Homo sapiens: one gene and its partners. The protein of the gene in region 2 purifies or fractionates together with the protein of the main gene of each other region. This does not show direct contact. Each region holds a gene or a part of one and is shown on either strand. Other genes may lie near its edges.

Region 1 (7,848 bases), on a different chromosome or scaffold from region 2:
AGAGGTTTACACAGGTATGCGACATGATGACAAATGTGAAACTTAGAAAACAAACAGGGCCATTTCCAAAACTAGAACTTAACTTATTTACCTGGTCATGATCAATATCTCCATCTCCTGTGATCACAATGCGTTTCTCAATTCTTGTTTCAGAAATTCCACCTTTTACAGTCTAAAGGTCATAAAGGAGAAGAAGAAAAAACAGCAATCACTGAAGCACGTTTACACAGTCAGAGCAAACAGAGATGGGAGTCCACCTAGACCTGTGGATCATTGTAAGGCCACACACAACAAGCAGCAAAAGACTGATATTCTAGAAACACTTTGTGCTTTATTTTTAGGCTCAATAGAGAATCCTATTACTAAAGTTATAGCATCCACAAGTATCCCTCAGCTGAGAGCAACCTTAAAACTCATTTATCAATATTCAAGATGGCATCTGTCCCATCTTAATCTCACTTGATTAAGATAGGACAGATATTATTTAATCCAAGTAGTTCCTTTAAGGGAATTCTGTTATAGTTTCCCGAGTTTCTTTACTCCTAGCTGGCCAATTTTTAAAAAGGAGAGTAGGGAGAAATCAGTTACTTGCAGAATTACAAGAAATTATAAGAATTTAGGTATCTGTTTTTGGTTTGAGAAACTGTTTGATGTGATATATATTTTTTTCCCATCACAGAAGACTTCTGTATGATGTGATGGTTTTGACTGATGGATTCTGAGCATACAAATTTATTTGCTGATTTTGTTTATTGCATTTAGTGCAATAATTTTAAAAAGGATTTGCTTTGGTTTCAGATACGGAAGATGGATGAGATTTTTGTTGAATGTTTGATTTGATGACACCCTGCGTAAGTAGTCATACACGTAGACATGGCGCATGGCTAGACAAAGGCTGCGAGCGGGGCTGGAGGAGGGAGCTCCTGGGGGAACTGCCTCACAGCGTTATGGGCTCCGTACAAGCTGCGAGTGCCTGGGGCACACTGGATGAGGCTGAGGAGATCATCTGGCTGTGACCTTCTAAACAGTCAATAAGCAAATACCACACGGTCCTGGGAAAGCGCACATCCAACATTTACAACTCTGATAAATGTACACTCTCAGTCACAAGTGACAGCATTTTACCATAACAAACCAGGCTTATCACTATGCTTAATAACTGGATATGCTTTAAAATGAGCACCAACAGTACCTTGCATTTATGCGGCATTTTTAAATTTACAAATTACTTTTGCTGTTTTTTAAATTGTTGTTGAAACATGGGTTGGGAAGGGCACAAGGGACACCTTTAAGACCTTTAGACACTTATCCAAAGTAAAAAACAGAAGAAGGAAATAGTGGAAAATAAGGCTGGAGTTAGAAAGCTGATGACTTCAGCATGCATCAGAATCACTGGAAGCTTCTTAAGACAATTCTAAGGTTTCAGGAGGACTGGAGTGGGGCCACGCTATTTATACTTCTAACAATGCCCCGGGTGAAGCTGATGCTGCTGATCCAGGGATGACTGGTTACCCAGTGCTAAACATTTAGAGAATTATGCAGGGAGGAACAGGGGAATGCCCCAAATCAGTATACTAGCGATCTTAAATGAGGGAAATTCTACATTATTTGAACAACTTGCTGAAAATTCTGAATGATGGCCTTCATTCATTCGCTTTAGTCAGGAGGGCTGGTTTAATAAAAGTAGAAGCACAAGTTTGTTTTTATAAATTATAAATTTTATTAAATTATTTATGGTTTTGTAGCTATCTTACATATAGCTATTCGTAACATATTTTTACCCCCTTGTACTTCACAAAATTGCAATTTGGCTTGAATGCATTTGTCAATGGAGCCTAATTTCTTGGATACTTTAAACCAAGGCATTTTGATTCCGCTGGCACTGTCTGTATCTTACTTGGAAGTGTGTACAGGAAGAGAGAAACAATTCAGAAAAGATTCTGTCTGTAATGTACCATCCTCTCCATATGATCCCCTGCATTGCTTTACCTTGGTGATGTGTGTGGTTGTCGTTGTTGACACGGACTCAGATGTGATGGTTTGTGCGGTCAGTAACGTGCCCGAATCACCACCAGCCCCGCCATCAATCTTTGGATAGTTGGGGGAAAAATACAAAGTAATGCTTAACTTCTGTTATGTTGTCAGAGAAGATCCCCGCCCCATCGAATATGCATCTTTTAAAATCCATGTGGTTTGCGTGTTTGCAGTAGTAATTACCATCCAGGAGAGCGGCTGGTATTTGAAACCGAGTAGAGGCAAAAGGCTAGGTGCACATGGAGAAGCAAACTCAACTGTGTGAGTGGAGAAAAGAGAGGAGAATGGACATAGTAGGTGGGACTGAAAGCTACAAGGGAATTATGACAGAATTTGTCTGAAGGACTTTTGCACAAGCTAGAAAATGAAACTAGAGAGCCAGGCAGAGAAGTTTCCACAGTGACCAGAAGCGCTGAGTTTGTTGTTTTTTAAGCACAGGTGGGTAAAAATAGATAAACATTTTATCAAATTACCAAGCAACAGAACCTGACCAGGACAAACTGAATCTGCATGATTTGGTTATCTGCTTACCTCTAGCGATTGTTTTCATCAACTACATTGTTCCTGTAATAGTTTGCATGTTGTGAGCATATATACGGGCACATATATTTCAATACTGCACATACGCATGTGCTCCTACATATATATAAATCCCATACATATGTTAAAATAGATTTTAACTTGTTTGCTTTGATATTGAAAGATGCAGAAGATTCTAGAGTTTCCAAGGGGAATCAATGAAGCAAATTAATAGCCTAACAGTTTATGTTAAGATCACGAAACATATTTGCCCTCTGTTTCCTGACACTGACACGAGGAAATAACTGGACGGTCCAGAGCCTTTCTGACTGTAAGAGGAAATCTCTTTCAAACTTGGGTCATGCACCTGTATGTCTTCATTCTGGCAACTTATCACAGCACAGACACATCACTAATGCTCCCCCGCCAAGCTGTTCATAAGAAACCTATTTGTGCTTATGTGGGATCAAGGCACACACAAGGATGCCATATCCAAAATAATTTTCAGATGTGTTTCACACATGCATGCATTAAACCTTTTAAAAAATATTCTGAGAGGTCAATAACCTGACATCCTCCACCATGATACAATTCTACCACAGAAGGTTCATCTTCTAAGTGGAGAAAATATTTATTTTATATTCTATTTTGAAATCATGAATGCTTTATCTTTTTTTGTTATTCTTAAGGTTAAACATCTTAATGCTTATTCCAAATCTTTACAGAACCAATGTGTGAAAACCTAAAATCAAACACACAAATCTGATAATTATTTAGACACATGGTATCACCATTCACATATGAATGACTACATAGGTCTTTAGAAAATAATTCCACACGAAGGAGAAGCACAGGTGTGTGTGCCTGTGTGTGTTTGTGTGTGTGTGTGTGTGTATGTGTGTTATTACAAGCAAGAATGAGTTGATTGGGTCAATCTTCACGGAGTTAGAGAGGGAAAGAAGCCTAAATCACATCCACAATTAGATCGGATTATTATTAATCGATGAATTATATCAGATAAACTTTGCAAGACAATTTGTTTCCTAAGTGTACACAAACATTCTTAGATATGTCAACTCAGAAATGGCTTTCAATCATATGAACAAGATTGATACTGTCTGTCCTAAATAATCATATGTACAGTTCCCCTATAATTACTGGGTTACCAATTTAATTGCAGCTCTCTGTCTCAATCTAAGAGAACATAGCAAATTATGTTGTTGAAGTACACTTACAAAGTGCAGATACAAAAAGCTACATCAAAGCCAGAAACATGTAAACTAAGAGAAGAAAGAATGAAAACATAGATACACTAAGGGAAAAAAGAGCTCGAACAGTCCAAGTCTAGAGCTTTTGTACCTGTGGAGACTCATATGTGATGGTTTTGGTCTCAGTTTGGACAATGGGGACTTCCTTGGTGGAGATTTCTGTCCTTTGTGAGGCATCAGAAATTGTTACCATCTCTGTTTTTACCACTGGTGGCTGAGGTGGAAAAGGAAGGGAAAAATAAATTCTAGAGGTAATAAAGTAAAAGTGTTTAATGGAACCTTCACAAATAATAGTAAGAAACATATCCAAACACACACTCATGCACAAAAGAAAAGAGTAAAAGCAAACAACCTAAAACAAACAAAAGAAATAAAAGAAAAATTTTCCTTCAAATATATCATATATACACATACATACATGTGCACATAGATACGTACATATATATGAATGTGTGTATGTGTACATACACATATATGAAAAATAAGTTGACATGATGGCTTCCTAAATTATGTTACTCTTTAAATTAAGATGGTCCCAAACTACTTTTATGTCAAGCCTAGTGTATAGTGACACACACACACACACACACACACACACACACACACTCTCTCTCTCTCTCTCTCTCTCTCTCCTCCTCCCTCCTTAGCTTTGGGCAAGTAATAATAAATTGAAAAGAAAATAGAATGAACTATGTGAAGTGACTTGTCTCTATTTTTATTATAATTTAAAGGACCACATAGTTTGTGTGAAGGCTCACTGCCTTTAACTGGCATGCCAGCTAGGTAGGCTAAGATTTGTTCTTCTGCCCACAATACCTTTTCTGCCTTATTGTTAACAGACACACCATTTTCAGAAAGGATGTCTTCAAGTATTACTGTTTTCAGTTATACCTGTCTAAAATTTGCAGTGTTTCTTCTGTATTACCTAAGTTAAAATGCTCTATCTAAAATTACTCCATCAATGTTACACCAATGCTTTGAACAATTTAAAACATTAAAGGAAATATTCAACGGCTTATTAACATTTTAGTCTGCCGAGTATGCATGCTTAATATTAATGCAACACCAGACTATACTACTACCAAAATACTGCAGTACTTTCTTTGAGAGAACATTCTCAACAGGCATAATTATTTAAAGAGGAGTAACGATATGTTAAATACAGAATAGTTCAAAGTGTTCAAAGACTCTTGAAAAATCTTCTCTAAAGTGAAACAGAAGTTTAAAAGTAACATGGTTAAAATCCACTTAATTATTTTAAGACAAAGTCACTTCAACATTTTCCATCCCATCGAAGAGAACAAAATAAATCTCTGTACTGTGGGCATTTAATATTAAAATCAAGAAATATTCCCAAGGAAATAAACCCTCCCTCAGCCTAACTCCCAAATGAGAGACACTGCACTTAGTGACCAAAAAGTTCTCTTCTTTGAAAAGAAAAAGATTCATGTCCAATGTATAGATAATCCACAAAACATATAATCATCTGGCAAATACTCCAGAATTGACATCAGGATAGAATGAGAAGCGAGGATATCCTCCTATCAAATAGCCTAGCCTCTGGCTGCCTGGAAGAAAAGAAAGGCTCTTAACAAAACCATACAACCCCTGCAATCCCAAAACAGAAATCACAGTGGCATTCAAGAAATAACATTCTCATCACTGCTGGATACTGCATTCAGAGAACCACGGTAATCAGAGACTGCTGTCATTTCTAAAACTCTGAAGCTGAAGAATGAGCCAAGAAGTCAAACCCAATCATGACATCAGGGGCACACACACTCAGCAGTGACCATTTTTTTTTTCAACATTACATATACATTTTTCTAATTAAACCAAAAGGGGAAAAAAAGGCATTTAGTGTGAGGAAGCAGTGCAACTGAAGACAAAACAGTTGAAAACACCCAAAACATGCAAAGAAAAATTTAAATGTGAAAAGGGAAGGAAAAATTGATGTGGTGCTTCTAGGAAAGTTTACCCTACAGGTGTCCAGTGGCCGCAGAGAAGCTGGAACCCATGAACTGGGCGGGCAGAAAATCCACAAAGCAGTGCTTCCCCCTTCCTCCCATGAGAGAGAAAAATCAGATTCTTGTTGAAAAAAGCTGAAGAACTGGGAGGACAGGAGAAGAAAGGCAGGAGTTCCCCATCTGAGAAGCAGCTCTAGAGTTTGGCTCCCACCTGGGACTCCCATTTACCTCTGAACAACAAATAATTTGTGGCAAAACATCAATGTCAACATGGGACACCTCTCCGTTAACTTTCTGTGGCTCTTCCTCTGCTTCTTCTCCCATGTCTTGCTTAAGAGCGCCTTCGTGTACACTCTTCTCTCCGGGTATCTTTTGGGCACCTACATTTTCCTGGATCACTGTTTCTACTGTGATTACACTGGCACCTGCTTGTGTGACTGGGCTGGCTTCGGGCACTGCTTCCTCCCTCTCTACTACCTTGGCTGCCGGGCGGGGTTCTTCCTCCACCTCTTCTTCATACTCCTGTTCCTCCCTGATGGTGCCCTCGGTCACTCGGTGGTGGGGACGGTACTCTCCCACGTCTTCCTCCTCACTCTCACTGCTGCTGCTGCTGCTCTCAGAAGACAGGGAGGTGGAGTCTTTTTGTGTCACAGGCTCCACCTTACGAATCTCCCCAGGACCACTCCCAGGTGATATCTCTTTACCATTCATTTCTTCTGTGATTACTCTTTCGTCTTTCCCAACCTCTGCCCGCTTCTTCTCCTCCACTATATTCAGAGTCTCATGTGAACTCTGTACAAAAAAAGATGGATGAGGGAAAACAAAAATATATGAATAAATAAAAACAACGGAAACCCAAATTAACCGATGGCAGATTCATGTCATGGAGAAAAACAAAGATGATTATGATGGCTGACTGAAAGGGAAGCGGGGCAAACGTGAGGGCAATGAGAAACGTGAGGCAATGGTGTTAACATGGAAAAAGGGGAGAACCTTAACAGCATCCCTGGCTCCAGTGCAAGGCCCTTCTGACTCGGGAGCACGTGTCTGCAGAACAAAAAGCAACCGAGGACACAAAATCAATACAGTTTTACCTCAACAACCACTGAAACAAACATCTGACACTGCAAAGACAAAACAGCAAGAATCAACATCTACAGAAACCTCTGCTCAAGGTCACATAGAGGACAATCAAGACAAATGCCAAAAAGCTTACAAAAAGACACAAAAACAGCCAGCATCCTCCCAAAGAAGTAAAATGCTTTTATTATAGATATACCTATAAGCTCTACCTATGTAGTTAAAACAGTTTACAAAAATTGAATTATACCAAAGCTGACTCATCATTTTAAAGAAAAAAATTTAACTTTTAAAACCTAGTAACAGTTTTGGTTTTAATCAGACTATAAAGTCTAGCCTGGAACGCTGATTCTTAAATGAACACAGCACCAAGGAGATGGCACTTTTATTTTTTGCTGGTTTTCTTTAAAAAAAAAAAAAAAGTTTTAATTGGCAAAATTATAGTTAGCCTCAGAAGGCTATTAACATGAAAATGTTCATTCCAGAAATGGTTATTAACTTTCCAATTCGTATCATAGGTTGGCAAAGGCTATATTATACAATAGGGTGGGTGTCAATGGTGACTCCAAGTGTTTCCTTTTACAATTTAGCTCCTCTACTAGCATCTTTGAAATCTAAACTCAGTCAAGTTTATTATTTGACATGTTCACTCCTATCCCCTTCAGACATCTACTTCTTGGGAGTAAAGTAATTTACTCCAGTTGAGTAATATAGCACCTAAATGTTCAATAAATATCTGTTGACTTAATACATTAGGAACAAATTACTATGTTATGATATTATTAACTAGGGTGGAAACCTTTTTGTACAGAGGGGTTTTTAAAGCTTCACATTTTTCTCACACTTACAAAAAGTCTGCTTTACAATGATATAACTCAAGCATGGCCAACTTTTTGACTTCTAGGTGGTACTACTGCCTATGATCTAACTTAAAAATAATTCAGCTAGAGCCAGGAGCCCTATTTATTCACGAAAGTGAC
Region 2 (8,342 bases):
GTTCCAGACCCGCCTGGGCAACATGGTGAAACCCCATCTCTACCAAAAATACAAAAAAATAGCCAGGCATGGTGGCGTGCACCTGTGGTCCCAGCTACTTGGGAGGCTGGGGTGGGAGGATTGCTTAAGCCTGAAATGCGGAAGTTGCAGTGAGCCAAGATCGCAGCACTGCCCTCCACCTGGGTGAAAGAGACCCCATCTCAAAAACCAAATAAAACAAAAAAGCAGCGCTATCTACTACTATCTATACAGAAAAATGAGGGCTTGCCTGAAACTGGGGTGGAACAGGGTGACTTGCAAACAGACAGAAGGAATCCTTTTGGGGTAATGGATGCATAACTTTGTATATTTACCAAAAATCATTGAATTGTGCACTTACAGGTGAATTTTCTATGTCAATATAGTTCATATAGCTGCCATTTTAAAAAAGGCATATTGGCCAAGTGCGGTGGCTCACGCAATCCCAACACTTTGGGAGGCCAAGGCGGGTGGATCACCTGAGGTCAGAAGTTCCAAGACCAGCCTGGACAACATGGTCAAACCCCGTCTCTACTAAAAATACAAAAATTAGCCAGGCATGGTGGCAGGCACCTATAATTCCAGCTTCTATGGAGGATGAGGCAAGAGAATTGCTTGAACCCGGGAGGCGGAGGTTACAGTGAGGTGAGATCGCGCCACTACACTCCAGCCTGGGTGACAGAGCGAGACTCCATCTCCAAAAAGGAAAAAAAAAAAAAAGTACACCAACTCAGAAAAATCGGCAAAATCTATTTAAGAACTGTAGATTAGGTATTTTATCAGTGTTAGTTTCCTGATTTTGATTGTCGTACTGTTGTTAGGTAAGACTAGTCCTAATTTTTAGAAAATACACTTAAGTATTTATGGGTTAAGGGGCATCACATCTGCAACTTACTAGCAAAACATTTCAGAAGAAACCTATGAAGAGAAGGATAAAGCAAATTGGCAAAATGTTAACATTTGAGGAATCTGGTGAAAGATAGCTGAGATTTCTTTTGTACTATTCTTGCAACTTTTTTTGTAAATCTGAAATTATGTCTAAATAAAAAGTTAAAAGCCAATACCAATAATTCTGGGTAGTGGAATTTTGTTCTTCTAGTTTCAGCAACTTTCAATTTTCAAAAAAAGGTAGAAAAGCTATTTAAGAAGAATCAAAAATCCCCTTTTGTGAATGGCAGTGATAGTGTTTGAAAAGTCAATCAAGAGATCTCTAAAATACAGACTGTTTTAGCAAGATGTTAAGATTGATAAATGATTCCTTTGCTTCCAAAGCTATAAAATAATGTAAATTTTCACTAAATCATGTGTAAATAAGAAAAGTAAACTGCTAATTTGTCTGTGGACAAAAACATAACTTGAAAATTCCAAATTCCTGTTAGGTCTGAAGTAGTTACCCAATGTTAACATGGACTAGTTTTACTTTAAAAATACATTCAGAAGGCCGGGCACGGTGGCTCACGCCTGTAATCCCAGCGCTTTGGGGCCTAGGCGGGCGGATCACGAGGTCAGGAAATCGAGACCATTCTGGCCAACATAGTGAAACCTCGCCTCTATTAAAACTACAAAAATTAGCCGGGCGTGGTGGCGCGCGCCTGTAGTCCCAGCTACTCAGGAGGCTGAGGCAGGCGAATCGCTTGAACCTGGGAGGCGGAGGTTGCAGTGGCCAAGATCGCGCCACCGCACTCCAGCCTGGGCAACACAGCAAGACTCCGTCTTAAAAAAAACAACAACACAAAACAAAAAAAAAAATTACAGAGTCAGGGTTGGACTCTTACATTTCATTGAAAATCCTTAAATAACAAATTATGTCAATATAGATTTAAATGCTTATGTGTGTTACCTGGATACTGCACGAAGGATTTTACATACGTTTTTCTCAATCCCCAACCCCAATAACGTATAGATACTACTATAAATTCATTTTACAGAGGAACAAAAACCAAAGCTTAAAAGAAAAAAGAAAAAGAAAAACCAAGGCTTTAAGTTAAATGAATTAGAATACTATAAGATTCACTTGAATCATGAGTAACTTATGACCAACTTAATCCCTTTCAAGTCCTCTGAATGTTTTTGGAAATAGCCTTTAAAAAAATTAAAAGCTCCAAAGACTATACAAAAATTATTTATACATTACTGCCCACGGCCTAATACACAGAGTACTTCACACTAATACAGCAGTAGGGTGCAACAGAGGTCCAATCTCTTCCCTTCTCTTGGCTCCACTCTGCCCAGTATCAAAATGGCATTTCCATGGCAATACAAATCCATATTACATAACCTCCGAAAAATCTTCATAGTCCTACGTCTATTCCGGAAAACCGTATTTAAAAGCAGGATTGACGACCAAAGAAAAATGAGAAAGTAACATTTTAATGTGGAGCTTAGTAATCGCCTAGAATGAATGGCGATATACAGTTTACTGCACCCTCCAATGCGCAAAAGAGGCAGGATGGCAAAATTCATGACTATCTTAAGCAAGCCAGGAGACTGCTAAAAAGGTAGGTATTAGCTCAATTCCAAGGGGGTGGGGCCCAGTTCACTTGGTGGCGGGCTCTAGATGGCCAAAGAGGAAGGGAAAGATATCCGTTGGTGGCCAGCACCTCGCTAAAAAGGGTGGGTAGAGGCTAACTTCAAGGCAACGGCTGGGGCGAGAGTGTCCCAGGCCCGAAAACCTACTGTGGGGCTCCGGTAAGTAAGGGGGCTCAGGGAAGGGCTCCCCTGGGGCAGATCGATCGTTTTGTATCTAACGTGGAGCCCAGGGGGGGCAGAGACGATTCACTCCGCGGCGGAACGTGGAAGGGAAAGGGAAAGTGGGCGACAATGCAAGACGGAAAGCTCAAGCCGTAGGTCTGGCCTCCACCAGCTACGGCTGGGCCCACAGCTTTTCCAGGCCTTAGAGAAGAGAAGAAACCAAGCCTCGTGCCGACCCCTCCCCCACCCCCGCCTCCGCGCTCCCCCTTACCTCTACCCCACCCTGGCGCTTTCGCAGCCACCCCGGCTTTTCCTCCTCCACCAGCTGAGGCACCCGGTCTCCCGGTTTCCACACGCGTTCAGAGACACAAACTCACCCGCCGCTGAGGAAACGGTACTGCCTTCGCGACCTTCTGGGATCCAGGTTACGAGTGCGCTCCACTGGTTCGAGATTTCTGCCCGTCGCTCGCCAGGGAGACTGAGTGCCCAAGCGCCTACTCGCACAGGCCGCAAATACAGCCGCGCTGCGCGGCGAGCTGATGGAGGTCTTCCTCTTGCCCGGCGTGCACTGCGGCCGGGGGCGGGGAGCGCGGAACCATAGAGAAGAACGTATATAGATCGTCTCCGCTGTTGGCTCTGACTCACCAAGCCGAGACGAATAACCATAGAGAAGCAGCGTCTAGCGGTTACTAGAAAGGCCCGAACTGTAAATTATGACCCACCATGTTTGATTGGAGCCGACTGAATCTTACGACTACGGGACGCCATCTTGAGGTCAAGGTTCCGGCTGGGCACGGCGCGAGGAGTGTTAGAGGCTTTCTCACTTTTCGTAGTTTTTCGGGGGGTGGAACCTTGCTTTGTGATTCCTTGAGGTTCGAGGAACTGATAACTGGGCGCGATCTGCAACCTTAGTGTTAAACCCCAAGTGCTGTTATAACAACTACTCGAGATCAACAAATAATTGGCAAAGGCTGTGGAGGTTTTTTGAAAAGCAAAAGCTTATGCGTAGTTGTAGGGCCAAAGAGGTGGCTAGAAGATGTTTGGAAAAACGTGAAAAGTCCTGTAATACTAGTTAACACAGCTTTCGTTCTGTAATCTAAACGTGCTAAAAGAACTTAGCTTAAGTTAATGGAAATGAATAAAATTAATCATAAATGATTACGTTATTCCAATTGTGGACCTTATAGGCAATATCTAGTTACACGCCTTTCTCAACTGCTTGCCTCTAGGAAGGCATAAAACGGATTCAGTATAAAGTTATTGCCTCCCTGAGTTCCTGGTGCTGTGTTAAGTGCTGGAAGTATGAAGGCAAATGGAAGTGAGATTTGTTCCTGTCCTGCAAGAACTGTGAGCCAGGTGAAATAGATGACAAACCATGACCAGCCTAATATAAAATTGAAACATACTACACACTTCCTGCCTGCCTCCCCTACTTAATTTTACTCTAAAGCACTCATAACCATCTATCATAACATACATTTTTCTTGCTGATTTTATGGTCCGTCACTACCCCCACTAGAATGTGAATGTAAGCAATGCATGGATTGCCTGTTTTGTGCAAGAACAGGTCCTGGTACATAGCAAGCGCTCAATAAATATTTGTTGAGTGACAGAAATGATTACCGGCCGGGCGCGGTGGCTCACGCCTGTAACCCCAGCACTTTGGGAGGCCGAGGCGGGTGGATCACCTGAGGTTAGGAGTTCGAGGCCACCCTGGCCAACATGGCAAAACCCCGTCTCTACTGAAAATACAAAAATAAACTAGGCGTGGTGGCAGGCGCCTGTAATCCCAGCTACTCGGGAGGCTGAGGCAGGAGAATCGCTTGAACCCTGGAGGCGGAGGTTGCAGTGAGCCGAGATGGCACCACTGCACTCCAGCCTGGGCAACAAAGTGAGACATTGTCTCAAAAAAAAAGAAAAGAAAAGAAAAGAAATGATTAACATATGATGAGTACCAATAGAACACAAAATTTAGTGGGAGCACAAATGAGAAAGTAGCACTAATTACTACCATCTGCAAAATTTACATCCTTCTATACTTCTGCTTGCTAGGTTTCCTTACCATTAACTAAAGTTAATAATACCTTTGGCCGTGCGTGATGACGAGTGCTTGTAGTCCCAGTTACTTGGGAGACGAAATTAACTTATGTATGTTTGTACTTTGTTCAGTAAAGTGCTATTCAAATTTATAGTTTTTATAGTGCTACTCTATAATGCTATTTATTGTTTGTAAATAAAATGAGTTTCTTTTTTTGTTTTGTTTTGTTTTTGTTTTTTGAGGAGGTGTCTCTGTTTCCCAGGCTAGAGTGCAGTGACGTGATCTTGGCTCACTGCAATCTCTGCCTCCCAGTTCAAGCGATTCTTGTGCCTCAGCCTCCCCAGTAGCTGGGATTATAGGCGTGGGTCACCATACCTGGCTAACTTTTGTATTTTTAGTAGAGATGGGGTTTCACCATGTTGGCCAGGTTGATCTCCAACTCCTGACCTCAGGTAATCCGCCCACCTGGACCTCCCAAAGTGCTGGGATCAAAGCTGTGAGCCACCATGGCCGCCCAAGAGTTTGTGCCTATTTACAACAAAAGGCATAAACAGAAATCTCAGATTAATCTGTGTCCCTTTTTATTATTAGAAACATTGTACATGAATTTGTGTTTACTGTGTAATAAAGGGAGCCCTCAGGCAACAATTTGCTAACTTTCCTACCTTAGACAATTTGTTGCTGATGTTCATGCAGCATCCATTCCCCTTGCCTTTAGTAATGAACCCTCCACATTTTTTAAAAGAAACCATCTTGGCCGGGTGCGGTGGCTCACGCCTGTAATCCCAGCACTTTGGGAGGCCGAGGCAGGCAGATCACGAGGTCAAGAGATCAAGACCAGCCTGACCAACATGGTGAAACCCCGCCTCTACTAAAAATACAAAAATTAGCTGGGCTTGGTGATGTGTGCCTGTAGTCCCAGTTACTTGGGAGGCCAAGGCAGGAGAATCGCTTGAACCTGGGAGGCAGAGGTTGCAGTGAGGCGAGATTGCGCCACTGCACTCCAGCCTGGGCAACAGAGCAAGACTCTGTCTAAAAAAAGCCAGGTGCAGTGGCTCACACCTGTAATCCCAGCACTTCAGGAGGCCGAGGCGGGTGGATCACCTGAGGTCAGGAGTTCGAGACCAGCCTGGCCAACATGGCGAAACCCTGTCTCTACTAAAAATAACAAAAATTAGCTGGGCGTGGTGGCAGGCACCTGTAATCCCAGCAGCTCAGGAGGCTGAGGCAGGAAAATCGCTTGAACCCAGCAGGCAGAGGTTGCAGTGAGCCGAGATCGCGCCATTGCACTCCAGCCTGGACAACAAGAGCAAAACTCGGTCTAAAAAAAAAAAAAAGAAAAGAAACCATCCTTCCACTACTCCAGATCCATGTACTTTGGATAGGAAGTCCCAACTCTAACCAGACCCCCTTAGGACACAGGAGTAAACTTACAACCTAATCAAAACCTGATGATTTAGTCACCCCTCCCTTTTTTTTTTTTTTTTTTTTTTGGTACTAGCCACTGTTTAAAGCATTTTGCAAATATCAACTCCTTTAATCCTCATAACAACCCCCTGAAGTAAGAACTATTGTGATACAAATGAAGAAACCAAGGCTTGCAAAAATTAACCTATCAAAGGCTACAAAAATAGTAAGTGAGCCAGTCTGGTTCCTGAGTTCGTGCTCTGGAACATTATACTGCTTCATCCTTTCAGGAATAATCCTAAAAAGAAGGGGAGGGGTCTCTATATTTTTCATTTAAATTGATTTTTTTTTTTCAATTTAAGCTTAGGAGGATTTAAGCTTAGAATAGATGGGGATGAGAATGAAATCACAGAAGAAAGCAGAAGTAAGACAGGGTGAGAGATTTTTGACAATATCAGTTGAGAAAATGGTTCATTCATTCATTTTGTTTGTTTTTTGGTTTGTTATTGCTGTTGTTATTTGAGATAGGGTCTCCCTTTGTTGTCCCGGCTAGAGTGCAGTGGCATGATCACGGCTCACTGCAGCCTCAACTTTCCAGGCTCCAGCGATTCTCCCACCTCAGCCTCCCAAAAGCCAGGATTACACTGAGCCCGGCTGGCTCAGCTACTCCTAAAGCCAGCTGTTCTAGGCTTATCAGTATGTAACCCAATACATTACTTTTCCGAAATCAGTTTGAGTTGAGTTTTCTATTCCTTACACAGAAAGAACTCTAAATGATACACTTATATACCACTTGTAGAGAACAAGCCAAGCCATTCATTTGCGATGCCAGTTATCCTCCTTCTATTTTTTTCTTACAAATCCTTGCTAAGGAAACTGTAGATAATTAATTTGGATATTACATTCTGTGTGCATTTGGACACCATTCTTTTTTTTTTCTTTTTTTTTTTTTTGAGATGGAGTTTTGTTCTCATTGCCCAGGCTGGAATGCAATGGCATGATCTCGGCTCACCGCAACTTCCGCCTCCCAGGTTCAAGCGATTCTCCTGGCATAGCTTCCCAAGTAGCTGGGATTACAGGCACATGCCACCATGCCGAGCTAATTTTGTATTTTTAGTAGAGGTGGGGTTTCTCCATGTTAGCCAGGCCGGTCTCCAACTCCCGACCTCAGGTGATCCACCTGCCACAGCCTCCCAAAATGCTGGGATTACAGGCATGAGCCACCACACCTGGCCTGGACCCTATTCTCATTGGCCACATCTGACCCAACTAAACAGCAGCATACCAGGAAAAATGTTGTTTAGCTGGAACTGAGCAGATCTTCTCAAAAATTGAAACTGGAGCCCAGCACAGTAGCACACACCTGTAGTCTCAATCATGAGGAGAGAGGATTGCTTGTGTGTGTGTGTGTGTTTGCGTGTGTATGCATGGCCATCATTATATATATATATATATATATATATATATATATATACACACACATAAATACATATACATACATAAATATATATATATATACAATGCCATTATATAGTATATAATGGCATAAAATATATAAATATAATACATATAATGCCATTATATATATAATATATGTGAATATATATAATATATATGTGTATATAGAGAGAAGAAGATAGAGAGAGGAAGCACATTAACACAGAATCTAGAGATCAAGGCTGGACTACCCAGCAAGGTGGAGTAACTGAAGTTTACCAAGTTAAGTCAGGACTCTGAAAGGATGTTAAAGTGCTCCCTTGTTAGTAATAGTCCTAGGCTCTTGACAGAAGCAAACATAGTTCCCATGGAGAAAAGAATCCCTAATTTAGGCTTCAGGATTCTGATATCAAATGTGAGCTTAAAATTTAAAAATGCAGGCCAGGCATGATGGCTCACGCCTGTAATCCCAGCGCTCTGGGAGGCTGAGGCGGGTGGATCACCTGAGATCAGGAGTTTGAAACCAGCCTGACCAACATGGAGAAACCCTGTCTCTACTAAAAATACAAAACTTAGCCAGGTGTGGTGGCACTCACCTGTAGTCCCAGCTATTTGGGAGGCTGAGGCAGGAGAATTGCCTGAACCCAGGAGGCGGAGGTTGCAGTGAGCCAAGATGGCACCACTGCACTCCACCCTGGGTGACACAGCGAGACTTAGTCAAAAAAAAAAATTGACCGGGCAATGTGGCTCA
Region 3 (7,437 bases), on a different chromosome or scaffold from region 2:
AGACTGTGCACAGAGCTGTTTCTACCTCCAGTGACATGCTTCCGCCCAGGCTTCTCCCCCTCCCGCCTCAATCTTCCCCTCACCAACTTAAGGTCTTAGGGGCCCTTCTAGGAGGCAGTCCCCAACTTCCAGAGCCAGGGTATAGGCTACTTCTATGTGTCCCATGGTACTGCCACAGAAGAGTCTCAGCTCTCTCCAGGATTCAGTTCTAAGGTCAGTGCCTAAGATAAAAATGGAGTGTAATTAAAATTCCTCTTAGAAATCTAAGGAAGGTGCCCTATTGAAGACCAACATCTTGAGGTCCCATGTAGTCATTTCTTGCCCATGTGGGAACACATTACTGTTTGGTTGAGTACCAGGTGAAGTGATTGGCCTGCAGTTAGGGCTGTGTTGTGCAAAAATCACTTGTTTTGGGGTGTTAGAACCACATTTAGGCGAGAAGATCACTTTTGGGGAGCTTGGGAACTGAGGCAGGCCGCAGGTGCAGCAGAGGCATGAGCTTGCCCGGGCCCGCCCTCTTGTCTATGCTCATGGAGTGAAGGAGGGGCCAGCGGAATGGCCCAAACAACTGATTTGTTTTTCTTTTTTTAAATCTTTTTCAGACAAATACCATTGTGTTTAAGCGAAATGTGTGTATAATGCCAAATCACTGTACCCCACAACCCTGCACACCTCTACACTGGACTGTAATTTCTTGTTCCTAGTTTGTCTTGCTAGACTGTAAGCTCCGTGAGAGCAGGGACCGTGTCTGCTTGTTGAGTGGGCTTTCCCCTGTGCCTGCCAGCATGCCTGGCATCTAGCAGGTCTTCTGTAAAGATGGGATGAGTTTGTAAACCCTCCAGCCTCAGGAGTGGCTCCATCCTCTGAGGCTCTGGGGCCCTCTGGCAGGCTAGTCATTTTTCTGCCATGTACGTACAATGCTTTATTTTCATGTTGTATTTTCCTTTCTAGCCAGTAAGCAAGCTCCTAATGAGCAAGTTTCTTTGTGGTGTTATCTCTGTATCCTTTCATCAGGCCAGCCCAGAGTAAGTAGTGCTTCGAAAGTGTTTGGTAAATGAATGAATTATGGTAACCCAGCCCAGTTCTGGCATCACTGTCTGCAGGTTAGTCTAATTCCAGATGAAAGCCCCAGATTCGAAAAAGGGAAGATTATTCAGAAGTGCATATGGTTGTATAAGAAAAAAAAATCTCATTAAATAGACCTGAGTAAACTTCAAATTTTGATGATCTGGCCATGTCGGAGCTGAAGCTTACCAGCTCTCTAAAGCATTTGCTAGGGAATCATGCAGATGGTCCAAAATATTTTTTAGAAAAGCATTCATCTGTCCCGGGATAGAAGTAGAGGAAGCTGGTAGGCAGGCGCTAGACCCTAAAGAAGGACTGCTGAGCCAGTTCTTAAGCCTGTGGTCCTGTCGGTGAGGAAAGTGAGAGCAGTCCAGAGCAGGTGAAAAGAGCAGAGCTCATTCCTCCAGTGGCTCTTTTGCCTAAAGCAGCATTCCTCAAACTTCTCACTCGAAGCATTAAGTTACGGTGAGATGCTAACACACGCTTTAGACTTAAGTCAAAATTTACTGTGAAGCCACAGCAAACCATGGCTTCACAGATGAATTAGTTGCTACACAAATAAGTTCGATACATAAGTACAGTAATTGCTTTTAAACCTTATAATAAGCAGTAAATTAGAAGTTAAACCATGTTTTTCTTTTACGAACTGAAAGAAGAGAATGCTTTTGATACTGAGAATCGCACACTGTGTCCAGGAAGATTGTTCTTGCATAACCAGACCCACAATAAATATCTACAACTTTTCTTACATGTTTATAAAATAAATCTTAGAAGAAAAATATTGTAGCTTTTTTTTTTTTTTTTTTTTCAATGAAGCTCTATGAACATTTCACAGAACTTTGTTCCTGGGAGTAGTTAGGGAAATGCTGCTTCAAAAAGCCAATTTTAAGTAGTTGTGAGGCATCCGAGTGGAATTTGGCTGCACTATCCATAAAACTTGAGAGTATAGGCGGTATTTCACCTACCAAGGTCAGTACCCTGCCTCAGGATTCTTACTGTTCATTTGAGCAATTCCGGGGCCCTCTCTGGATGACCAGGTTCGTAAATAGTTGAGACTTTGTGTTATCTCAAATTGTCACCATCACCTCTGGGCCAATATAGGTTAGTGAGGTCGAGAGGCCCACACCATTGACAGAAGAGAATTCTCAGGCCGGGCTTGGTGGCTCACGCCTGTAATCCCAGCACTTTGGGAGGCCGAGGCGGGTGGATCACCTGAGGTCAGGAGTTCAAGAGCAGCCTGGCCAACATGTTGGAACCCCGTCTCTACTAGAAATACAAAAATTAGCTGGGCGTGGTGGTGGGTACCTGTAGTCCCAGCTACTTGGGAGGCTGAGACAGGAGAATTACTTGAACCCGGGAGGCAGAGGTTGCAGTGAGGTGAGATCGCGCCACTGCGCTCCAGCCTGGGCGACAGAGCGAGACTCCGTCTCAAAAAAAAAAGAAAGGATTCTCACCTTCCTGTCCCTTCCTAGGAGTTTTGTGGTAGTGTTCGATCCTGTGATGTGGCCATCTTCTCCTCAGGGCCTGTGAGAGGCAGGCAGCATCTTTAGCTGAGGTAGAATGCCTGTTGGGGAAAGTCAAATAGGATGGTGGCTGGGGCCGGGGCTCTGGGGACTCCTTCTGCCCCACATACTCAATTGGAAAGACTGAGCAAGTCCCCTCACCTCCCTGGGCCTCAGCTTCCCTGTCTGTCAAATGGAGGGCTCAACTGGGGTGAGCTCCAGTTTCCTTCTAGTGCTAACGCGTGTTCAAGGATCCTTGCTCTCCTTTCCGGGGAGCATCAGGGGTGTGGGCTAGATAGCAGGAAAGAAGTAGGGGTTTGTAAACAAGAGATCCAAGCCCCTGGACCCTTGGTCCCAGCACCCAGTGCAGCCCTCGCCCTCCCAGCCCCTTCCTTAGAAAGGACAAGAAAATCCACTCCTTGTTCTCTCCCTGTCCCATCACCCCCGCAGTCCCCCACAGATCTGAGGCCGGAGGATGCCAACATGGTGAGCACCCTCTTGCTGTCTTATTCACGTAGGCTTTTCTTGGTGCCTGCACATGGCTCTTGTAAGGCCACCAATCTTGCTGGATTATGACCTCATCTAACCTTAATTACTTCCTAAAAGCCATATGTCCAAGAAGAGCCACATTGGGGGTTAGGGCTTCAACATATGAATTTGGAGGACATTTACAGTTCAGTCCACAGCACCTGGTCATGTGGAGATCCCAGTCTGCATTTGTGGGATGAAATCTCTGCTTTTTTAAAGTTTACACACCACCTAGCTGGGCACGTGGCTCACACCTGTAGTCTCAGCACTTTGGGAGGCCGAGGCGGGGATCACCTGATGTCAGGAGTTCGAGACCAGCCTGGCCAACATGGTGAAACCCCGTCTCTACTAAAAATACAAAAATTAGCCGGGTGTGGTGGCGGGCACCTGTAGTCCCAGCTACTCGGGAGGCTGAGGCAGGAGAATCGCTTGAACCCAGGAGGCAGAGGTTGCAGTAAGCTGAGATTGTGCCACTGCACTCCAGTCTGGATGAAAGAGCAAGACTCCATCTCAAAAACAAAAATAAAAAAAGTCTACACACCAAAAGAGCTGAAGGCAGGAGAGTTTGTGGTGGTTCAGAGTCCTGATTCTGGAGGAAACAGGCCTGTTTGGAGTCCCAGCTCTGCTCCTTACTAGCTATGTGGCCTCTCAGAGGCAGCATCCTTATCTGAGAAATCGGGTTGACCTTGTAGGTGGCTGAGAGGCTCAGATGAGGGCTCGCATGTGAGGCCTTGGCACTGAGCAGGGCACTCCTACCGAGTGTTCAAAGGTCGTGAGTACCACTGCTCTGCAGCCCTGGGCTCTGGTCTCAGCAATGCCGTCACTCTTTCTGGCTTCCTAAGAGTCAGAAGGCAAGTGGGAGAATAGAACCATTTCCTGTGTCTGAAGGCTGTGCCTCAGTGCTTTTGACTCACTCTGAAGACAGCAGGCAGCCCTTTCTGTTTTTTTTGGAGATGAAGTCTTGCTCTTGTCGCCCAGGCTGGAGTGCAATGGCGCAGTCTCGGCTCACTGCACCCTCCGCCTCCCAGGTTCAAGCAATTCTCCCACCATAGCCTCCCGAAGCTGGGGCTACAGGCACACGCTGCCACGCCTGGCTAATTTTTTGTGTTTTTAGTAAAGACAGGGTTTCACCATGTTGCCCAGGCTGGTCTCAAACTCCTGAACTCAGGCGATCCGCCTACCTCGGCTTCCCAAAGTGCTGGGATTACAGGTGTCAGCTACCACGCCCGACCCACAGGCAGCCCTTTCACCTCACGCCGAGCACGTCTCCTCCATCCATGAACATTTTGCAACTTTTTTTTAAAGAGACAGGTTCATACTATGTTGTCTAGATTGGACTCAAACTCCTGGGCTCAAGCTTTCCCAAGTAGCTTGAACCTCTTAAGTAACTGTGACTACAAGTGCACCTGGCCACTTTTTCTGAGACGGAGTCTCGCTCTGTCACCCAAGTGGAGTGCAGTGGCATGATCTCCGCCCACTGCGAGCTCCGCCTCCTGGGTTCACGCCATTCTCCTGCCTCACCCTCCTGAGTAGCTGGGACTACAGGCACCCGCCACCACGCCTGGCTAATTTTTTTTGTATTTTTAGTAGAGACCGGGTTTCACCGTGTTAGCCAGGATGGTCTCGATCTCCTGACTTTGTGATCCGCCCGCCTCGGCCTCCCAAAGTGCTGGGATTACAGGCGTGAGCCACCGCGCCTGGCCCACCTGCCCATTTTTTAAAAACTTTATTCTTCCTGGTATCAAGGGGAGAAAGAAAAAAATTTTTTAAAATATTTAAAACTTTATTTTGAAATAATTTCAAAATCACAGCAGTTTGAAGGGTACAACAAAGAACATTTTGCCACATTTTCTCTTTCATTCGTTCCCTCCTCTTCTCCCTCACCCCTGTTTCTTCCTATCCTCTCTGAACCATGAACCATTTGAGGATTATTTGTATACATCATGCTCGTTTATCCGTAAGATGTTTTAGTGAACATTTCCCAAGAACAGGGACAGCCTCTCACATGCCCATGGTACAGTTCTCAAATTCAGGAAATGTGTAATATTCTCTGATCAGCCCAGGAGTTGCTAATTTGTAGTTCCTGTTTCAAATTTGCCAACTGTCCCAATAATGATTTTGAAAGCCGTTGTTTTTCTGGTCCAGGATCCAATCCAGGATCAAGCGCTGCCTTTAGTTGTCCTCTCTGCAGCCTCCTTTCGTTTGGAGCAGGTCCTCAGCCTTTCTGTCTTTCATGACATTGATGTTTGTGAAGAGTACAGTCCAGTTTCTGTTGTAGAACGTCCTTGAAGTTGGTCCCGGAATATTTGTTTAAAGTGAGTTGGGAAACCACATTCACATGTCTTTTGGTTATGTGTGTATTTGTCAAACAGCCAGCCTTGTGCTGCGTGCTGTGATGGGGAGCATTACTCAACAGAGCCTGGCCCTGACCTTGGGGATGTAGTTTGGGTTTGTGGGGAAAGCAGCTACCGCCAGGTGGGCTTTACGGACCCCTGTGTGTCTCATGACTAGAGGCACTGACGCTTGGATAAATACATACTGGATGGATGCAGGATGAGTCCGCATTCTAGAAGTGTGCAGAGGTACAGAAGTGGCCCTGCTCCCTGTCCAGCACCCAGTCATCAGCTTTCCCTGGCTTCCCGAGGCACCCTGACGTTCACACTCCAAACACAAAGTCTTCTCTCAGGAATCTCGAGTGAGCTGCAGTCTGGGTTCTAGCCCTGCCCTAGCAGGGATCTGCTCAGTGACTGGGCTGCTCTCTTCCTGCTTTAGGCCAATGCGGGGGAGAGGAGACCACTGTGACTCTCCCCAGTGCCCTTGGAGCGCAGAATGAAGTGAGGGGAGGAGGAGGGTCACGAGCCCTGGAGCGCTGGGAAGACAGGCTGTAGGCCGCAGGCCCCGATCCTGCCTGGGACGAGGTTCAACAGAAGTAGGATGGTTTCATCATGACCTGGCAGGAAAACCACCAGACCTGGAATTTTGCTTTTACAACTGTTTAACTTCTGTTTCATACAGGATGGAAACCGGTGAATTGTAATCTCACATAACCGAGCAAGATCTAGTAGTCATAAGCACTTTGTCAGAGCAAAGCAGACAAGGCAAAGTGTTGGAAATGTCATCGGATCTTCACAGAACCTTAGCCAAGCAGCCTTTCAATGCGAGAAACAAAATAACATGGATTTTTATCTAGTAATGAAGTCAACACCATTGTCCACCCTGGGTTAACACATTCACATCTCAAAGCGAATGGGGCTGCAGACACTCGTGTTAGAGAGCCTTGGAATGTCCTGCCTTTTTACGTTTAATTAAAATTAAATAAAATATACAAAATTCAGTTCATCAGTTGTTCTAGTGGCATTTTAAGGGTTTAGTACCATATGTGGCTCATGAGTACCATCCTGGACAGCGTCGACCTAGAGCAGTTCCATCCCCGCGCAGAGTTCTGTTTGACGGCGCCACTCTGCACTTCCAGCAGCCTGGGGAGCAGGGGTGCAGGAGAGTTCCTTCTGTGTCACAGACTTGGTCACACAGTACAGATCTCAGATCAGCACTTAAACACGACTGCCAGCTGTCAACGGCGTGTTCTGTGGAATGCTGGGATGCATCACAGGTATGCTGGAAGATGTATAGAATTTTACTTCTGTTATTCTGGTAACTCAGAGTCCTGTTCAGTCAGTTTCCACGTCAGGTTGCTGTCCTGGTTTTAAAGAGAATGAACGCAGCCGAAGTTGAATCGAGGCAGTGATTTCACTCAGTGCGTTGGGTCTTTCCACTCACCTGGCCCTCCAGAACCCCAGGGCCTTGAGTGCATGGGCTGGTACAAGAGCCCAGTTTTTGGCTGGGGAGGCACTTCCTATGGGAGGGGGACGCCTGTCTCAGTGCTGAGGCAACCACCACCGAGGACCCTGGGCTGGAAGCTGGGCTGAGATGTCTGGTGGTAGGTTCTGAGGCAGGACAGGGGACCGACTCAAATGGATGATACGAACGGCAGGCTGGATTCACGTTGCTCCTGCACCTCCAGCATCTGCTGAGGACACCTAGAACTGTGGCCCTGGCCAAACCTCAGCTCCCTATTCCATGAAAGTGTGGGTCAAAGTGTGGGTGGTAGAGTGGGGCTGACAGTGGCCCCTAAGCTCCTAGGGTCCAGCCCACAACTGAGGAAGCCACACGGCTGGTTGTGTACGAGCCGGAGTGTCTCTGTTTGGTTGAAAGTGCCGGTCTGTGGGTCCTTGCTGGTGTGTGTGCTTCTGTCCCCGCCTCCTGGCCTCCTGGCTGAGGGGAAGCTGAGTGGGCCACGGCCCATGTGTCGCACTCGCCTCGGCTCCCACACAGCCGCCTCTGC
Region 4 (8,078 bases), on a different chromosome or scaffold from region 2:
AGTCTCAGAATTAATGAAATATAATATCCGTGGCCCCTACTAGACTGAAAACACTGAAGGGCAGGGACTTCATCTGTTTTTGCTCACCTCATATCCAGTTCCCATTGTGTTTTCCTTACCACCATCTATGGGTACAAACTAGGTGCTAATAAGTATGTGTTAACTGAATGACTAAATGGTCTTGGCAAGTCCTACAAAACAGTAGGGGGCCACTGGTAAGTTAGGTCTAGTAGTTATTCAGGGAACATAGAATGTCAGAACTGGAGGAGACTCTGGCAGTCACCCAAGGTATCCCCCTTTTTCAGGGAATAATCTGTCCAAGGAGCCACCACTGGTTAGGGACAGAACTGGGACTGGATCCAATCTGCCCTCTAGCCCTCCTCCCTTAAAAGCAAAGCTCCTACCACATGAAACAGGTCTGTTTGCAATCTAGTATATCCCCTGCAACCTAAGTGGTTAAATCACCAATGATTCAACGTTTTATTGAGAACTTACCGGTTCCCGATTGCCTACCCTACAAAATCTTTCATCTAACAGTCAAAGCCTTGCAACGAAGGCCGCCCCACACTCTTCTTTGCTCATCCTGACTCAATGGCTTCCCTCCTCCTCTCTTTGCACAGAATTGTTAGATTACCCTCAAGTGAAACACATTTCTTTTATTCTACAGTCTCATGCTTTGTTCAAGATGATCCAATATTCACCTCCTTCAGGTTACCCTTATGACTATCCCACACACATACACACACTCCTACCTGTGTCCCTTCAGGATAAATGATGCACTACTTTGCAGAGTGACATGCTACTCTGTGAATGTTTGCTGGGTGTTTCATGTGGGACTGCTTGTCTCCCACTCATGTGGGGATTTCCCTACATTCAGGGATTGAGTTTTCTCCTTTTATACCTCCCCCAAGTGTTTAGTCAGGGCCCTGCACACAAAGTGCTGTGATAAAATGCAGTCTCATCTCTAACCTTATTAGATTTTTGCATACTGGAATATCCTAAAATGCACTTTGAAAACAGTGTATACACGTGTGCATATGTACATCTGTATAAATTCTCTGACATACAGGCTGTGACAGAGAGAGGTAGCTTGGCAGAAGTCTTTGTGGCTTGGAAAAAGGAAATTGGATTGAAATGTTGGCATGAGAAAACCTAATAAAGCTAACTGTATACAGTCATCTTCAACTTGGGATGAAGACCTCTGGCCAGGATTCAGACACTGGCCTATTCTGGACAGTTCCCCACAGAGGACAGAACAATGGAATAAACATAAACTACTACAGAACTTCCAAAGCCCTTCCTTCGCTGAGCTTCCCGTGTTGTGTCCCTGCTTTCCTGAAACACCCCGTCCCTCTCCTACCTGCTGCAGTGCCATAAAACTTTGGGTCTTATTTTATTTCTGGGTGAGAATATGAAGACATTAACTAGTGACAGGGAAGGATATAGAAATGGTTGCTGAAAGAGAAGCAGATCCTGTGTCTTCCCTGGAACAAAAACACATTTGTGGGCTGAGAGATGATGAAGAGACACTTGATCATCTGATCATCATATGTTCACCTGGGCCAGTGAGGGGCCACCCCTTTCCCACCACCAAAGATGCAATCAATACTTCTGGGACTTCACATCTAAGGGGCATCTCAGAACTTAGCACTCAGAAGAATAAAAGGAGAAAAGGACAAGAATGGAGAGGCAGTAGGAAAAAAAACAGAAAGAGGGAATGATAACAGCTAATAGCTAATATTTACTGAGCACTTATTATGAGCCAGATACTGTGTCAAACACTCATTTAATCCTGGCAACCATCTCAGAGGTTATTATTCCCATTTTACAGATAAAGAAACTGAGGTTCAGAGATTAAGTAACCTGACCAAGGTTCCAAGACATTAAATGGGAGAGGCAGGTTTGGAATCCAAGCAGTCTGACTCCAAAGCCTGTGCTTTCAACCAGTTCACAAAGCTGCCTCCCAGCAAGGATGATGGCGCCACAGATGATACTGCTTACATTCAGATACATTTCCTTTTTTCTTTTTTAACCCCAATCCTTACACAATCCAGAAATCCTCAGCGAGCCAGGTGTTCCCAAGGTCTGCTTGGTCTGACTCATTCCCACTTCCTGAAGATGAAGGCTGGGAGGCACATCTCTCAGAAAGTGGTAGCCATCATCAAAAAAAAGGCTGAGAGACCAGCTGGTTACCCTGTGATCTACCTGCGGCCCTTCTTCAGCTGCCCCAAACAGCACCTGCCCTTCCGTTTCAAAGACCATCCTAGTTTCCAACTTTCCTGGACCAGCCCTACTCTTCCTCTTGCTCCCCAAAGATCTGCCTTACTAGAAAGTATCTTCCTGTTGCTTTTTTTTTTTTTTTTTGAGACAGAGCTTCGCTCTTGTTGCCCAGACTGGAGTGCAATGGCGCGATCTCAGCTCACCACAACCTCTGCCTCCCGGGTTCAAGTGATTCTTCTGCCTCAGCCTCCAGAGTAGCTGGGATTACAGGCATGGGCCACCACGCCTAATTTTGTATTTTTAGTAAAGACAGGGTTTCTCCATGTTGGTCAGGCTGGTCTCCAACTCCTGACCTCAGGTGATTCGCCCGCCTCGGCCTCCCAAAGTGCTGGGATTACAGGCATGAGCCACCGCGCCCGGCCCCTGTTGCTTCTTTCTGATCCTGCCATCTCATCACTCTCCCTCTGAAGAAGCGAATGTTACTTTTGGTCTCCATCATTGTGGAGTTAGGTTTCAACCTCCTCCTCTCCTTAGAGTTCTTCCATCCCTCCAACAGGATAAGGCTAGCCAGCCCCAGCCCGGCAGGCTTTCTGTCTACCATCCCCCCGCACCCGTGGGGATTTCTCCAGCCCCAGCCCAAGGCCTCGCCTCCATCTTCATCCTTTCCTTTGCTTCCCTACCAAACCCATTCTCCTAAACTTCCTCCTCAAAAACCTATTCATTTAGACCCTGGAAGAGATCTGGGATTTAATTTTCATGCATTTCCTTTTTAAAAAAATTGATGGGAAATCTGAGGCCCAAAGAAAGGTAGTGACTTGCCCAAGGTCACACAGAGTCGTTAGTTTGTTGATGGCCTGGGCTGGGAGCCCCTTTCTTCAGAGGCCCCCTCTCCACCTCAGGAGACAAGCTCTTGCAAATGCAGGAAGGTGAAGCAGGGAGTCCCCAAGTGGTCTGAGGAGCACCCAGGCTTCCAAAGGGAACGGGCGCTGGGGCTGGGGGAAGGGCATGTCGCACACCAAATATCCCAGGAGGGGAAACTGGTCCCCACCTGTCCCCTGGTCCCCTCAGTCCCCTCATCTCCGCCCTCTCTCTTCTTTCCCGATCTTTCTCCGCGAACCCACCCCCACCTCTCCCAATCCCACTCTTCACCCAGTCCCGCCACTCTCGCACCTTTCGCCCCCGGCCAGGCTCCATCATGGCCTCCCCCGCCCCTTCGCCCCCAGTCCCCGCCCCCATCCCCCCTCCCGGGCTCTCTTCCCTCACCCTTGGCCTCCCTCGCCCTCCCCGGGGTCCCAGCTATCCCCAGCGGCCTCCCCGCCCCATCGGCCACGGCCCGGGCCGCAGGGGGCGCTGTGGGACCGCCCCGAGCCCCTCCACCCCCGCGCGGGGATGTTACCATGCCAGAGCCTCCGAGCAGCTGGGCCGGCTCAGCCCACCCGCCAGTAAGAGCCGCTCTGATTGGCCAGGCCGCAGCCGGGAGGGCGGGGCCGGCGGGGGGTCGCACCCCTTCGTGGCCGGGGCTCCGGTGGCTCCCGCCGGCGAGCGGGGCCCCAACCGGCCCGGTGTGTTCGGTCCCGGCCCCGCCCCCCCGGCACGGAGAACCAGGCCCCGCCCCCGCGCCGCCGCGTCCCGGGTCCGCCCCCCGGGGGGCGGGGCACGCCTGCTCCCGCCTCTGACTGACGGTCGGGGGCCGGCGCCTCTGCCTCTCCCCGCTGCCTGCGTCCTGGCTTCGCAGTCGCCGGCGCTCCAGGAGCCGAAGCGTTCACGCAGTGTGTAGGGTGCCTTTGCGCTGCACAGCGAATTTAATTTGCTGTGTAGCTCTTTTACAGTACTTTTAAGTTAGTTAACTCCAGAACTATTTGTTGAGCACCTGTGAGGTGGCAGGGTCTGTCTCAGGGACTGAGCACACAGCAGCTTGGAAAAAAAAAAAAAAAAAGACAAATCCCCGAAATCACGCCCTTGTGGGGCGTACACGTGCTTCTCGCGTGACCCTGAAGTTCACTTTTGGGACCTGGCTCCCACTGAGCGCTGAACTCATGAGAGCAGGGCCCACTCTTTGACAGAAGTTAAAAATGTGAGGTACATGCTTGCTGTGCGGCTGAGGAAACTGTAACCTGGAGCTCTGCGGGGAATGCGCTGAAGGCCTTGGGGCTGGAGAGTGACAGGCCCCAGGCACACGGGTGCAGAAAGGCGCTGACCGCCAGCCTGCAAAGCCCCGCAAAAGGCGCTTCCTGTTCCCTTTATTCCCCCCTCACCTGAGCCGGGACTCGCGTGATGCCGTGCTAGGTTCCTGAGAGCCAAAGAACTCCGGAGAGGTAGAAAAACTCCTGACACGAAGAGTTAGAGGTGACACCTGGGAGGAAAAGGAAGTGGGATTCACCCTTGTGGGCTGCTGTAGAGAGAAAATGCTTTGTGGTTTAATCAAAATGATACCCACATGGTCTCAAATGAAGGCCCAGCTCTGCGGTTTTCTTTTCTTATTTGAGGCAGCGTATTGATCTGTCACCCAGGCTGGAGTGCAGTGGCACAATCAGGGTTCACTGCAGCCTCAGCCTCCTGGTCTCAACCGGTCCTTCTCCCTCAGCCTCCGAGTAGCTGGGACTACAGGCGTGTGCCACAACGCCCGGCTAATTTTGTAACTTTTTGGAGACGACGTCTCCCTGTACTGCCCACGCTGGGTCCTGTGGTTTTCAAACTTTTGGGGGAGGTGGGGTGAGGAGACTGGCGCGCGGCCCGCAGCCGCCGCCGCGGCAGGAGAGGGGAATGGAGGGGGCGGGCGGGGGGAGGAGGACGGACCACCGGCGGCCTCTCCACCGCTCCCACCTTCCCCCGGGGGCTGCCGCGATGCCAGCGCAGCTGGGGCGATTTTCAAACTATTATTGAGATCTCTAAGTATAGCAGAAGTGGTCCAGAGGTTCCGTGAACTTTCATGAATTGCATTTTTATTTTTTAAATGCTTTTCTTTTCTTTAATGAAATATTTCTTAGAACATGTACACACATATAGAATCGAATAATTGTACCAGATTTGTTAAGACAAACAGCAGAGCCCTGCCCCCATCGTCTTCCCCTCTCTGGAGGCAACGTTTTCACCTCTTTTAGCTGTTTCTTCTGGCATTTACCTTCACATCTCCGGCCTTCCCCCAGCTGCAGCCCTCCCCACAGGGCAAGGGGTCCAAGGGGATTTGCCCATGCAAAGCACACTTGCCCAGGATTAGACCATATTCTGAATACCTAGGACCCTGGAATTCCCTGCCCAGCTTCCTCCTTGGGTCTGTCCTCCCCAGGGAGACCTTCTGTTTTTTCCTGCACAAACTTTTATTTTTCCTGGAATTAATAATCTTGTTTTTTAAAATCATTTATTTTCTATGTATTTCTCACAAACTCTACCTCAAATTCTTCCCCCAGTTGCTTAAATTTCCTCTCAGAATATCTAGATATAGCAGAGAATTCTCTCCATTTCATCTTCTTGAAGACATCACTGCTGGAGACTGCTGACCTTCTCCAATCTGACTGTTCATCCCCTCACCTTGCTGCACATCTGGCAACCTGGCATCTCTTTTCTCATTCTCCTGGGCATGTTCTTTGCCTCATTCTTTTGTTGTTGTTGTTTTGTTTTGAGACAGAGTCTCGCTCTTGTTGCCCAGGCTGGAGTGCAGTGGCTCACTGAACCTCTACCACCCGGGTTCAAGCTATCCTCCTGCCTCAGCCTCCCAAGTATCTGGGACTCCAGGCATGCGCCACCACACCCGGCGAATTTTTGTATTTTTAGTAGAGATGGGGTTTCACCATGCTGGCCAGGCTGGACTTGAACTCCTGAGCTCAAGTGATCTGCCTGCCTCGACCTGGCAAAGTGTTGGGATTACAGGCGTGAGTCACTTTGCCTGGCTGCCTCACTCTTCTGTGGGATTTTTATTTGCCATATTCTATGCTTTTCTTTTCTTTTTTTATTTTTTTGACATGGTCACTTATTTTTATAACAATACATATACCATGTTATCACCATGGAATGTAAATTCAGGTTAGACAAGAGAATTTCACAAGTGTAATGGCATTCTGTAGTATAGAAAAGCATGTGTATAATGTCTGTTCAAACCAGCTTGCTTATAAATCATTAATTCCATTATAGGTAATATGTTTAACGTTTACAATTCTTACGGAGAAAATAACATTTTCTCCATTTAAAAAGTGTTCTTCAGTTACCTTCCATGAGTGCTTGAAATACATGTTTCTGTTTCAAGATGACATTTAAAAATTATCCTTATATTACAGCAGCAAATACAGATATCTACAATTACAAAAGAACTAAACTAGAATTCATAAGTTATTCTCATGTTTACAGTTATGATTCTTTAATAAATGCTACTACTATGCAGCTCTATTGTAAGCTTCCTAGATTTGATTTAAACACATACACATATATACTTTCAGCTGTGGGAGGTTTTACAAGTTATATTCCATGCACTTTTTTTTTTTTGTATTTTTAGTAGAGATGGGGTTTCATTGTGTTAGCCAGGATGGTCTCAATCTCCTGACCTCGTGATCCACCTGCCTTGGCCTCTCAAAGTGCTGAGATTACAGGTGTGAGCCACCGCGCCCAGCCTCCATGCACTTTTTTGACAGAGTTCTAAAAGAGCCAGCCAGTCCACAAGACAGGCAGAAAAAAGTTAAATTAACTGGGGCAAATAGAACTCATATAACATCCAAAACATGCAAGATTCTGCAGCAAACTAGGAGTACTTCAGGGTTGGTTTGCTATCTTCTTTAGAACTAATTTTATCCTAACAGTTTAAGAAGGTGGACATTTCAACACCATCTTTTAGGTGACATGTTTCTTTTGTGTTAATTTGACTCCCCTGAATGACCTAGTTAGTAAACTAGTCACTAGTAATTCAGTCACCAGGCAAATCAAGCCTGCAAGAAAGAAGGCCAGTATTCACAATGCCGTGTTATCAGCTGAACCCACTCAAATAGTTTATTTTAATCATTAATATGTAGCTTCAATAATGAGATGTGGACGCGGTGGCTCATGCCTGTAATCCCAGCACTTTGGGAGGCCGAGGTGGGTGGATCACTTGAGGTTAGGAGTACAAGACCAACCTGGCTAATATGGTGAAACCCCGTCTCTACTAAAAAAAAAATACAAAAATTAGCTGGGCGTGGTGGCGATCACCTGTAATCCTAGCTACTCAGGAGGCTGAGGCAGGAGAGTCACTTGAACTCGAGAGGCAGAGGTTGCAGTGAGCAAGATTGTGCCACTGCACTCTAGCTTGGGCAACAGAGCAAGACTCCATCTCAAAAAAAAAAAAAAAAAAAAAAAAAAGAGATGTCTAACTAAAGTAAGCTCCTCCAACAAAACCAAGATAGCATTTCTTCTACGGTGTAGGTTTTGCCCAGAATTCCCGATACATGGAATGATAGCCCATACCAACAGTCATTGCTCCTTCAACAAAGCCTTGGGCTGCCACACACATGTGGATCAGATGATGCAACATTTTAGTATTTCCCCTGCTCTTCAGTTTGTATAATACATATGCAACAATTGCTGCAAAACCTGCCATTCCAGTGGGGATGAATGGTGCCTCTTTAGCTTTTCAAATAAGTTTGGATCCCTAGATTTTCATCATATGAAGGGAAACATCTGTATTTGTTGACACAGTGATTGCTTGAATAATCTCCCTAGAGCGAGAAAACCCCCTCACACACCAACCGGCTTCTGATCCCCACCTGTGCCTGTGTTTTTCTTGATTTATAATACTCCCGCTTTTTTGAGGAGACCATCATCCAGAAGCTTCCTGAGAAAGGGAGCAGTAAATTATTTTGGAACTTTGCGTTTTTGCTGTTGTCATTTTTCAACTG

What was found.
Region 1: the proteins of RBM25 (region 2) and EPB41L2 purify together in Homo sapiens (affinity purification with mass spectrometry; 2 studies listed by BioGRID, with this or other methods). This does not show direct contact.
Region 3: the proteins of RBM25 (region 2) and NCBP3 purify together in Homo sapiens (co-immunoprecipitation; 2 studies listed by IntAct, with this or other methods). This does not show direct contact.
Region 4: the proteins of RBM25 (region 2) and PRPF40B purify together in Homo sapiens (affinity purification with mass spectrometry; 3 studies listed by BioGRID and IntAct, with this or other methods). This does not show direct contact.

Annotation. Positions count from the first base shown.
Region 1 is NC_000006.12:130,863,547-130,871,394, forward strand, and holds part of EPB41L2 (band 4.1-like protein 2), read right to left. Parts: intron 6,836-7,848; coding exon of another isoform or gene 6,782-6,835; intron 6,581-6,781; coding exon 6,017-6,580; intron 4,036-6,016; coding exon 3,913-4,035; intron 2,089-3,912; coding exon 1,990-2,088; intron 173-1,989; coding exon 92-172; intron 1-91. UniProt on the Homo sapiens protein: Required for dynein-dynactin complex and NUMA1 recruitment at the mitotic cell cortex during anaphase.
Region 2 is NC_000014.9:73,053,450-73,061,791, reverse strand, and holds the start of RBM25 (RNA-binding protein 25), read right to left. Parts: upstream 3,259-8,342; 5' UTR 3,087-3,258; exon of another isoform or gene 3,008-3,086; intron 2,707-3,007; exon of another isoform or gene 2,557-2,706; intron 2,517-2,556; exon of another isoform or gene 2,339-2,516; intron 1-2,338. UniProt on the Homo sapiens protein: RNA-binding protein that acts as a regulator of alternative pre-mRNA splicing. Involved in apoptotic cell death through the regulation of the apoptotic factor BCL2L1 isoform expression.
Region 3 is NC_000017.11:3,801,155-3,808,591, reverse strand, and holds the end of NCBP3 (nuclear cap-binding protein subunit 3), read left to right. Parts: 3' UTR 1-6,434; downstream 6,435-7,437. UniProt on the Homo sapiens protein: Associates with NCBP1/CBP80 to form an alternative cap-binding complex (CBC) which plays a key role in mRNA export. NCBP3 serves as adapter protein linking the capped RNAs (m7GpppG-capped RNA) to NCBP1/CBP80.
Region 4 is NC_000012.12:49,619,132-49,627,209, reverse strand, and holds the start of PRPF40B (pre-mRNA-processing factor 40 homolog B), read right to left. Parts: upstream 3,650-8,078; 5' UTR 3,620-3,649; coding exon 3,617-3,619; exon of another isoform or gene 3,418-3,616; coding exon of another isoform or gene 3,391-3,417; exon of another isoform or gene 3,040-3,390; intron 2,392-3,039; exon of another isoform or gene 2,263-2,391; coding exon of another isoform or gene 2,046-2,262; intron 1-2,045. UniProt on the Homo sapiens protein: May be involved in pre-mRNA splicing.